Homo sapiens: one gene and its partners. The protein of the gene in region 1 purifies or fractionates together with the protein of each later gene. This does not show direct contact. Each region holds a gene or a part of one and is shown in the gene's direction. Other genes may lie near its edges. The genes, in order: ZNF571, HERC1 and TIMM50.

Region 1 (4,291 bases):
AGGGAAGAAAGTGCATTTGTCTATAAAAGGGCAACACAACAGATCCTCGAGGTGATGGAAATGATCTATCTTGACTATCAATGTCAACATCCTGGTTGTCATATTATACTACAGTCCTGCAAGATGTTGTCATTGGAGAAGACTAAGTTGAAGATAACACACAATGTCTCTATTATTTCTTACAACCTCATATGAATCTACAATCATCTCAAATTTAAAAAAAAATTTAAGGAAGTTTTAAGAATTTCATTTTCAAATATTTGCTAGATGAATTAAGTTTTTACCCCCTTCAAATCTTGAAGGCAAATTAATGCTCCAGGTTGTACTGTTCAATAGGAAGACTATTAGCCATATATAGCTGTTTACATTTAGATTTATTAAAATTGAACACAATTTAAAAAATTCGTTCCTCAGTCAAACCAGCCACATTTCAATTTCTCAATAGCCATATGTAGCTAGTGGCTACTATATTGGAGAGCACAGATATAAAAAATGGAACTCAGTTTTGCAGAAATTCCTATTAAAAAGCATTGTTCCAAAGCGTTACACGACTGACACCCTCACTTTACAGGTGAGAAAACTGAAGCCAGGAGATATCACTATAATACAGCGCTGCACACAATCGTGCTCATTCTCACCATATTATGCTCACACACTTCTTTCCCCACATTCACTGCCACAGGCGAACTCTCAATGAATCATTCACTACATTTATATAATTTCATGGGAATCTATTTTAAATTCATGACCATGCAAAGAAAAATCAATTTCTTACAGGTTATAAGATACTCAGTCGCAGGCTGAATCTGATTAAACAGACATCAGTCACCCTCAAAGCTATAATCAAACCATTCCCAAGACCCTTCCGCACACAATACTAAATGCGCCACTAATAGCCTCAAGCATAATCTGACGCACATCACACAGGCATGGCCACTACCCACTCTGCACCCACAGAGGACACTCGGACACGCGCGCGCACAGACCCACACACACACGCACACACACACACATGGCCGCAAAGAATGCGTCACACTTCCGAACCCCGTTGAGCAGCAACCCGGTATCGTGGCCACTGCGTCACGGCCAGAGCTGTCAGAGAGAAATCCAGACCTTACCTGACAGCCTTTTGCAGCTCTTCTAGCCCGGGATGACATTCCCCTGAAGGCACCACGGCAAGACTCAACCTCTTTGTGTGAGATTCTCTGGAATTTCTGGGGCGTTACTTGAGTATAATGAAATAGGGTAGGCTCGGACCATAGTAGGGTAAGTCCCACAGTTCGAGCAAGGGAGCCTCAGGGATCGTTCTGTTCTGGAGCGCCGGACCCGATCTTAGCTGCTGGGCCTGCGCAGACACGATCCGGCCGGTTTCCAGTTGTAGACTACATTTCCCGAAGGCCCCCGCGTCGCTGCGCAACGTCGTACACTTACGCTGTTATGTCTTGACGCACGGAGCTTGTCTGCGCCGGCCAGGTGAGTGGGCGGCCTCACCGGGAACCGCTCGCAGCTTTTGGGTTGCTTCATCGAAAAAGTAGTTCTTGTATGGTGCTGGGAATACCGGTGTCCTGGCTGGGGCTCGGTGCTGACAGGAACGGGACGGTGCTCTGGCTAATTACTTATGGAAGTCGGCCTTGCGCTTGCGGAGGGGTGTCGGCACCGTCACTTTGGTTCTGGCAGTGGCGGGGGTGTGGTGCTGCTAGTTGTGTTCCTCCGCACCGAATTTATGAGTGTGCCCCTGGAGCCCCTGCCGCGGACAAAATCGGCACCATAACTTTGGGATAGGGAGGCTAGAAGGAGGCGGGTGTTACTAGTAGTGTTCCTCCGCCCTGGACGTGTGCGTGTGCGCTTGTGCGGCCGCGGGGTGGGCTCACCTGCCGCCTGTTAATGCTCCTAGCGCTTGGCCCCTCCCGGGCCGCAGTACTCCTCGTGTGACACGGACATCATTAAGCCAGCTGAGAATCGTGCGGTTACAGCTGCTGCAGTTTCTTTGCAGAGTAAGAGGCTCTTTTTGAAGTTTCCCTGATGGTGAGGCTTTACCCCTGGAAGTGTCTTAGGAAGAAGACCACTGTTAAAGATGTCCTATTCTAGCTTGACAGCCCTGTGGGGAAGACTAATCCCTTTCTAGAGGTTGGTGTTATCCTAAATTGTTTCGTCTGCTCCGAGAGCTCTGATGTTCTATGATGCTTATTTCTTTTCTCGGTTCTGCGTTTTCCAAGAGAGGCACCCAGAGGAAAAGAATATCGCACTTCTGAAAGTCTTGTGTGAAGTTCCTGTTTTCTTTCTAACCTCAAATTTCTTCCTTTCCGAAACGTTTTCTACCTCCAGCAACATCTTCCTAAGGAAGAACCAGCCATGCTAGTGACTGGTCCTTAGGCACCCCATAAATGATGCTGCGGGGATGGGATCATCAGTTTAGCTCTACTCCCCAGCCACACTACACCTCTCCTTTCCACCCAATGATACAGCAGTCCTTTCTGGTCTAAGATTTTTTTGTTTGTTTGTTTGCTTTTTGAGACGGATTCTCGCTGTGTCGCCCTGGCTGGAGTGCGGTGGTGCGGTCTCGGCTCACTGCAAGCTCCGCCTTCCGGGTTCACGCCATTCTCCTGCCTAAGCCTCCCGAGTAGCTGGGACTACAGGCGCCCGCCACCATGCCCGGCTAATTTTTTGTGTTTTTAGTAGAGACGAGGTTTCACCGTGTTAGCCAGGATGGTCTCGATCTCCTGACCTCGTGATCCACCCGCCTGGGCCTCCCAGAGTGCTGGGATTACAGGCGTGAGCCACCGCGCCTGGCCTGGTCTAAGGTTTTGATGAAAAATAACTGTACTTTCTGGGGGAAATTTGAAGAGTTTTAAAATTTTAACTTTATTGTGGATGTTTTCAAGCAGGCTAAAGAATAATACGAACCCCAACATGTTCAACACCTAGCTGTAATTAAAAACATTTGTAAATACCTTTGTATCAATCCTTCCCCGTTTTTTCCTATAGTATTTCAAAATTGTATTTTATCCTCTTATAAGCATATATTACCAAAAAGGACATTATATTTTAAAATAACCATGATGCTGTTATACCAACATAAAAAAAAAAACTAACAATAAGTTTAAAACAATAAATTTGTTTCTTATGTTGGTGTAACAGCGTGGTGGTTATTTCATAATCTTGTATACCCCCATATTCAGATTTTCCCAATTATTTCAAAGACATATTTTTACAATAGGTGTGTTCAAATCTGGATCCAGATAGAGTCCACACATTGCATTTGGTGGCCAAACCTGTTAAACTTACTTAATGCATGATAGTTTCCCTCCTGTGTTTTGTTTTGGTTTAATTGGTGCTGTTGATTTGTAGAAAAACTAGATCATCTGTCCCGTAGAATATTCTGTATACTGCTTTTAGCTAATTGCTTCTTTGTACTGTCTTATAATTTGTTTTCCGTTCCTTCATATTTCTGTAAACAGGCAGTTAGATCTAGAGGTTTGATGGAATTTGGATCAGATTTTCCCTAAATCACCTTTAATTCATAGTTGGTGCTGTGTACTTCCTATTACATCACATCATGAGGCCCTTACAGTCTGATGTCCCACTTTCAGTGATGTCATATTGATGTGTTTAAATGCTGTCCATTTAATCCTTTCCTTTTTTTCACCTAAAGCATGCATTCTCAATGAGGGTGGAGGATATCACCTTCCAAGTGGGTGAAACTTGGTTTTTGAGAAGGAAGAGGACAAAAACTCATAGGTATTACAATGATCTGTGGTCCTCCAAAGGGCCACAGTACATAAACATATATACAGTATATCTATGGTAATAAAATTTCATGAGAGTGGTGGCTATTAGAGAAAAGTATCTAAAAAGGTTCCTAGGGATATGACCGTGAAAAATTTTAGAAGGATTGAGAAGCACTGACCTAAAGGTTATAACGTCCACTTATGATTGATACCAAGATCCATTCTTTATTTTTTTTTCCTCACTCTGTCGCCCAGGCTGGAGTGTAGTGGTGTGATCTCAGCTCACTGCAGCATCCACCTCCCAGGTTCAAAAGGTTCTTCTGCCTCAACCTCCCGAGTAGCTGGGATTACAGGCATGTGCCACCACACCTGGCTAATTTTTGTATTTTTAGTAGAGACGGGGTTTCACCATGTTGCCCAGGCTGGTCTGCAACTCCTGACCTCGAGTAATCCACCCACCTCAGCTTCCCAAAGTGCTGGGATTACAAGTGTGAGGCACCGCGCCTGGCCCATTCATTAACAGTTATATATGGTGATTAAAAAAAAATTCTCTCAATTCCTCC
Region 2 (3,650 bases), on another chromosome or scaffold:
CCAGAGGTACTGGATTGGCCTACCTGGGTGTGTGTGACTGCAGCGGGGGCTGCTCTGACTTATTTTCCTGCCCTCCTGTTCATATAGCTTACTAACAGCAGCCTTGCCTAGAGTTGAAACACTCTAAAAAGTCTTTTATCTCATCCTGAGGTTTGGGGATTTAAAGTTATGAGGTTACTTTGATACCTACAAACTAATAAGGAAAAGTCTCTCTTGCTTTCTCTGTGGGATTTTATTGTTTCTCTCCCCAGACAAGATGAATAGAGTCATACTGTGGTAATATTTGATTCTGATGTCAAAGATAAATTACAAAACAAGCATCAGGTTCCAGTAGACGTTGACAGGTTATATAACATGGCTGCTGTGCTCACATTGCTATCTGAATGCATGTTCTTCTCCTTCATAGGTTCCATTTAATCAATGTAATGCCTTATTCTAGGAACCAGTGCTCACCTAGATCTTGTAAATACCTCCATTTAGGGGCAAGGTACATGGTGGATTTGTATATACATTGGTTAGCATTACATTTTTGTAGTAGGGAGACCAAAAAGCTCATAGATGTAAGTCCTACAGGAAAGAGAATCTGCTATATAAATAAGTGAATCATAATGATTTTTCCCAAAAATTCATAAAGTAGGTATGCATTTTGTGACCAGATGAAAATTAGTTCTTTTCACTAGTGGAGTTTTTTTTTTAAAAAGCCTCATTTTGAGATAGGACAGATTGTCATGTTCATTAACTCTTCTCAGTAGGATACTCAGTTACTTGTATTATTGATATAACTTATTAGAGTGAGAGAGGGCAAAGAACACCTTCCGATTGTGTTATCTGAATTCTGATTTGAAAGAAATTTTTTATTTAGCATTAATGAACATGTTGGAAATATTCTAGCATATGTAATAAAGTAATTTAATATAAATAATCTACTTGGTACTTCTTGGTTTTATGTTAAATTGACTAATCATTTGGTATGAAATCCTTTTGTGCAGCATGTTTGTGAGTCTGAAGACAGGGAAGAAGTGGTGGTGTGTGAACTGTGTGAATGCAGCGTCGTCAGCTTCAATCAGCACATGAAGAGAAACCATCCAGGCTGTGGGCGCAGTGCAAACCGCCAGGGCTATCGCAGCAATGGTTCCTATGTGGATGGCTGGTTTGGCGGTGAATGTGGGAGTGGAAATCCGTACTACCTGTTATGTGGCACCTGCAGGGAGAAGTACTTAGCCATGAAGACCAAATCTAAGTCAACAAGTTCTGAAAGGTACCTTGAAATTGTGTAGATATCCAGACCTCCTGAAGATACCTCATACCTTAAGTCTTGGGAACTGTAGATTTTTCACGTGAGGAGTTACATTTAACCTTCCCTGAAATCCCGTGATTCTTACACTTTGGGCAGAAGGGATGGAGGGGTTTCAGAAATTCATGTTCCCAGGAATAATGGCATAGCAACATATCCTTCCCTGGAGTTTGACTGTGTTAACCTCTGACTTGTTGGCAAGTAATGGTCAGGACCCTTGCCTTAACCCTCAGGAGGCTTCTACTCAATTCTTTTCATTTGTATTTTCTACCATATTTCTGGCATTTTAATTAAGATCTTTTTCCTGATGAAAAAAACAGACTTTTGATTAAACGAGTTCCATAAAAATATTATCTCTTTACATCCTTAATCCCTAGAGAGTAGGTTTGTTGCCCTTAATTGTCAACTATTAAAATCTTTAAGGCTTTATGGAATAGAATTTGGTTAAAAGAGTTGTTTTAGGTAACCCAGAAATCTCCCCAGTAGTTTGGTAAAATAATCATTGATTTTGTAAGCATGTGTGTACCTACATACCAGCAGTTTTTATTATGTTAGCCTATAACATGAAACATACTTTTTTATTTTGTGCTGCTTTATTAATGACCTCTTAAAATGTTCTAATGACTTAATTTGCATCTTGGGGTACTAACTGTTTTATATAAAAATGCAATGTTCTTCATGTTTGGTGCAGGTACAAGGGACAAGCTCCAGATCTAATTGGCAAGCAAGACAGTGTGTATGAAGGTAGTTTGTTTTGAGAGCTTCTTTATTTTACATGTTTTTTTATATATCCTCTCTGCTTAACATCTGTTACTAAAATTCACCTTCGTGTGTGTGTGTGTTTGTATTTGTGTACATGTTAACTTAAATTTTCCCTTAAAAACTCAAGGGAATTTAATAGCAACAACGCTGGTTTAAAAGTCAAAGGAAAAGAACGTGGTTTCAAAGACCAACTTTACCACAGAATATTAATTTCTATTAGGTGTATTTTTTTTTCAAAGTAGGGAAAGGATGTGGTATATTTTGAATTTCCACCCTAATTGTGGAAAGTAAAAAATAAATAGAGATGAGCATTGATTTTTCTGGAGCACTCATTTTCTTGAAATAACTCATTCCCTAATGATTACAGACAGCTAAGAACTCTTTGTTGGACCCATGACAATATTTTTAATTAGTTTAAACCTCTATTACCAGCTGTAGCATTTGCTATTGCTGTCAACTTATTTAACTACATTGACTCCCTTTCCCTGAGAGTCTCACTTATGCTTCAGGAGTGCAGTTTGGTTAAGTTTTCAGGAGATGGTGCCATAGTTCATTATGTGGTCACTGGACTTTCAGTCCATCTGCATTTTATGTATGTATGTATTTATTTATTTATTTATTGTTTTTATTTCTTTGAGATGGAGTCTCACTCTGTTGTCCAGGCTGTAGTGCTGTGGCGTGATCTCAGCTTACTGCAGCCACGGCCTCCCAGGTTCAAGCAATTCTCCGGTCTCAGCCTCCTGAGTAGCTGGGATTACAGGCACACACCACCATGCCTGGCTAATTTTTGTATTTTTTGGTGGGGATGGGGTTTCATCATGTTGGCCAGGCTGGTCTCAAATTCCTGACCTCATGTGATCCAGTCGCCTCGGCCTCCCAGAGTGTTGGGATTACAGGCGTGAGCCATCGCATCTGGCTGCTCATCTGCATTTTAGATGTATTTTCAGAACAACCATTGCCAGCAGATTTATGTAATATTTAAATTCACATACTATACATTTATTTATTTAAATTCCAGAAGACTGGGACATGTTGGATGTTGATGAAGATGAAAAGCTAACTGGTGAAGAAGAATTTGAATTACTTGCTGGACCGCTTGGTTTAAATGACCGGCGCATTGTACCAGAACCAGTTCAGTTCCCTGACAGCGATCCACTGGGAGCATCAGTAGCAATGGTCACAGCCACCAACAGTATGGAAGAGACTCTGATGCAAATAGGTAAACTGAAATCCTGATTTGCATTGATTTTATAGCATCTACTATAATTTGTTTCTTAGATAGGTAAATAATAATAATAAAGTAAAAGTAAATAAGACTAATGGTTCAACATTATCTCACCCCAACAAGTCTCTTTAGCCAGTTGTTTTAACATTTTGAAGGTATAATGTGGTATTAAGTTTTGGCTGGGCTTGGTGGCTTATGCTCGTAATCCCAGCACTTTGGAAGGCTGAAGAAAGAAGGTCGCTTGAGGCCAGCAGTTCAAGACCAGGCTGGGCAACATGGTGAGACCCATTTCTATTAAAAAAATGAAGAAAAGTAGCTGGGTGGGTGGTGTGCACCTTTAGTCCCAGCTACTCAGGAGGCTGAGGCAGA
Region 3 (3,650 bases), 1.9 Mb from region 1:
GCTGGCTTCAACAAATCAGTATGCTGATTTAAATTGGGCAGGTACATCTGCAGTTTTAAAGTGTATATGTTTACTAGCCTAACTGGTTTCAATATTGTGGTTTATTTTTATTTTTATTTTTTTTTGAGACATAGTCTTGCTCTGTTGCCTAGGCTGGAGTGCAGTGATGCAATTTTGGCTCACTGCAACCTCCACCTCCTGGGTTCAAGCATTTCTCGTGCCTCAGCCTCCCGAGTAGCTGGGAGTACAGGCGCACACCACCACACTCAGCTAATTTTTATAGTTTTAGTAGAGACAGGGTTTCACCATGTTGGTCAGGCTGGTCTCGAACTCCTGACTTCAGGTGGTCACTCGCCTCAGCCTCCCAAAGTGCTGGGATTACAGGCTTGAGCCACCACTCCTGGCCCAATATATTGTGTTTTTTTTAAGAGGCAGGCCCATGTATTGCACTAAAAATACTGTATTAAAGTAGGTAGCCTTGTAAGTTTACTGTTTTATACTGGATTCATTAGCCGGGAGTGGTGGCCTGTGCCTGTGGTCCCAGCTACTCAGGAGGCTGAGGTGGGAGGATCACTTGAGCCTGGAAGTTACAGGCTGCAGTGAGCTGTGATCCCGCCACTGCACTCTAGCCTGGATGACAGAGTGAGTCTCCATCTCTAAAAAAAAATAAGTTAAAATGAGAAAGTAAACTGGAGTCAATATATTCACTTAAACCAGGGTTTTTCACCCTTGGCCCTATTGACGCTTTGGACCAGATAATTATAGAGGACTGCCCTGTGCATTGAAGGATTTTTGCAGCATCCTGGGCATCTGCCTACTAGATGCCAGTATTGCGATAACCGGTTATATCTCCCGGCATTGCCAGATTTCCCAGGGGTAGGCAGATAGACAAAATTGTTCCTAGTTCTGAACCACTGTTTTATGGTATATGGATGTGTTTATATATTTATTGTGGTTTAGATTCAGCACACTGGATTAAAGTGGGCAGATCTGGAAGCCTAGTGATTCAAAGTGGGCAAAATACAGTGGCATAAATTAGGTGTGGTGGCTCACGCCTGTAATCCCAACACTTTGGGAGGCCAAGGCGGGAGGATCACTTGAGCCCAGGAGTTCAAGACCAGCCCGGTCAACAGAGCAAGACCCTGTCTCTATTAAAAAAGTATGTATACCCTGGTGTAATGTCAGCAGATTTACATGTATGTGGGTTTTGTTTTGTTTTTTTTTTTTCTGAGACGGAGTCTTACTCTGTTGCCACGCTGGAGTGCAGTGGTGCAATCTCGGCTCGCTGCAACCTCCACCTCCCGGGTTCAAGTGATTCTCTTGCCTCAGCCTCCCAGGTAGCTGGGACTACAGGCACATGCCACCACGCCCGGCTAATTTTTTTTTTTTTTTACTGTTTTAGTAGAGACAGAGTTTCACCATGTTGGCCAGGATGGTCTTGATCTGACCTCGTGATCCGTCTGCCTCGGCCTCCCAAAGTGCTGGGATTACAGGCGTGAGCCACCGTGCCCGGCCTTGTATGTGGGTTTTAAGTGGGCCAATGTAATAAGCATTCTGTTTCATACCTGGGGTAGTATGTGGATATAAGTATCAGCTTAAAATAGGGCAAGTAAATAAATCTGTGTTCCTATCTGGCGGTATGTCATTGCCTTCTATCTTTGGACCTAGAAATGAGTTGGTTCAAACCAGGCAGATATGCAGACCTGTTTGTATCTGGTAGATAAGAAACCCCTGGTTTGTCTGGGAGGTTGAACAGCGGCTTATTGTGGAATCTCTTTGTGCCTGGTGTTCTCCTAGATCCAATTCTGGTACAGCAGTTGCGCCGGACATACAAATATTTCAAAGATTATAGACAGGTGAGCAGAAGCCCTGGGCTCAGTCCCCATGTCTCCAGCCCTGGCCTCCTTGTCTGAGCGCCCCCATCCTGTCCCTCTCCCACAGATGATCATCGAGCCCACCAGCCCTTGCCTTCTCCCAGACCCTCTGCAGGAACCGTACTACCAGCCACCCTACACGCTCGTTTTGGAGCTCACCGGCGTCCTCTTGCATCCTGAGTGGTCGGTGTGTCCCGGGAAACCCAGTGGGTTGGGGATAGACCTGGGCAGTGGGGTTGTGATGAGGTGGACTTTCAGCCCTGGCTGTGCTATGTGATCTTGGGGAGGAGATGTCACCTGTCATTGCCTCGCTTTCTTCAGCTGGGAGAAGGCAGTCATGCTAACACCCACTCTGTAGGGTAGTGTAGGTGTGCCCAGGCACGCTATAAGTGCCACAAAGGAGCCAGACCCGCAGTCACAGCCTATGAACTTCTTGACCTCCAAGAGCCACAGAGACAGAGGGAGAGAACTCTGTTCTGGGAATCCCCCAGGCTGGATCTTTGTCCTCTTGGGGACTCTGAGGACCTCTGGGTCTTGGTGTTTCACTGTCCTCACTGTCTTCCCAGCTGGCCACTGGCTGGAGGTTTAAGAAGCGCCCAGGCATCGAGACCTTGTTCCAGCAGCTTGCCCCTTTATATGAAATTGTCATCTTTACGTCAGAGACTGGCATGGTGAGGCTCTGGGGCAGGGGAGGGAATATTGGTGTGGTGGGAGGCGTAGAGATCTGGAGGACCAGGGCTCAGCCTGACCTTTTCTCGCTCCCTTCCCACCCCCAGACTGCGTTTCCACTCATTGATAGTGTGGACCCCCATGGCTTCATCTCCTACCGCCTATTCCGGGACGCCACAAGATACATGGATGGACACCATGTAAAGGTGCCGTGGGTTCATGGGTGGGCCTCTGGGATTTGGCGGAGTTGGCACCACCTGAGGGAAGGAGGGCCCAGCTCTGACCCTAGCCTCACCTGGCTTATGGTTCTGCCCAGATTCGATTCCTGCTGGCAGGCACATGCCTGCCTCTAGCCTTGGCCAGACATCTGCACCCTTCTTTGTTCCCTGGAATCTGGGTGTGGGAGTGGGGGGAAATGGGGTCTCTCTAAAGAAGACAGTTGGGGGTTAGTGGTAAGGTCGTACGATTTAGAAGCTGGTTTTATCTTGCTGTGTCTGTAACTTAGTGTTTCTGGGAAGGTTTGCTTATAGTTGTACATATGAGACTGGTTGGGGTTTGTTTGACCCGGGCTCTGTTACTGTGGCCAGTGCTGTATTCAGGAGTCCGGATCTGCGAATGGGCCTCTGTGGGTCTGGCTCCAAGTGTCTGTGTGTCTGTTGGTTTCTGTCTGTGTCGTGTCGGGGTGGGGGTTCTGTGTTGCTCTTGGAAATTCCAAAATACGTGGGCTGTGATCGAGGGTCTTGAAGGGTCTGTGTCTGGGTGCCTGTCTGTGTGGTTCCCTGGGTGTGGCTGCAGATCTGTCTGCACCTGTTTACTTGAGTGAGAGGTTCTTAAACCTGCAACATACCACAGTCACCTGGGCAGGGGTTAAACACGAGAGTGGCCACCTCCCTCTCCAGGGAACTTCCTAATCACCTCTCTGTGTGCTAGGCCCTGGGTCTAGAAGTCTATGTGATTAGCTCCCCAATATCCTGGGGGTTGTTTTGTTTTTTGTTTCTGAGACAGGGTTTTGCTCTGTCACCCAGGCTGGAGTGCAGTGGTGTGATGAACATGGCTCACTGCAGTCTCAACCTTCTGGGCTCAAGCGATCTTCCCACCTCAGCCTCC

The links.
Region 2: the proteins of ZNF571 (region 1) and HERC1 purify together in Homo sapiens (affinity purification with mass spectrometry; 2 studies listed by BioGRID and IntAct, with this or other methods). This does not show direct contact.
Region 3: the proteins of ZNF571 (region 1) and TIMM50 purify together in Homo sapiens (co-immunoprecipitation; one large-scale study listed by IntAct). This does not show direct contact.

What each region holds. Positions count from the first base shown.
Region 1 is NC_000019.10:37,591,923-37,596,213, reverse strand, and holds the start of ZNF571 (zinc finger protein 571), read left to right. Parts: upstream 1-1,421; 5' UTR 1,422-1,473; exon of another isoform or gene 1,474-2,127; intron 2,128-4,291. UniProt on the Homo sapiens protein: May be involved in transcriptional regulation.
Region 2 is NC_000015.10:63,659,361-63,663,010, reverse strand, and holds part of HERC1 (probable E3 ubiquitin-protein ligase HERC1), read left to right. Parts: coding exon 1-27; intron 28-989; coding exon 990-1,258; intron 1,259-1,985; coding exon 1,986-2,038; intron 2,039-3,074; coding exon 3,075-3,275; intron 3,276-3,650. UniProt on the Homo sapiens protein: Involved in membrane trafficking via some guanine nucleotide exchange factor (GEF) activity and its ability to bind clathrin. Acts as a GEF for Arf and Rab, by exchanging bound GDP for free GTP.
Region 3 is NC_000019.10:39,483,747-39,487,396, forward strand, and holds part of TIMM50 (mitochondrial import inner membrane translocase subunit TIM50), read left to right. Parts: exon of another isoform or gene 1-1,044; intron 1,045-1,500; exon of another isoform or gene 1,501-1,630; intron 1,631-1,797; coding exon 1,798-1,856; intron 1,857-1,941; coding exon 1,942-2,061; intron 2,062-2,440; coding exon 2,441-2,545; intron 2,546-2,650; coding exon 2,651-2,749; intron 2,750-3,650. UniProt on the Homo sapiens protein: Essential component of the TIM23 complex, a complex that mediates the translocation of transit peptide-containing proteins across the mitochondrial inner membrane. Has some phosphatase activity in vitro; however such activity may not be relevant in vivo.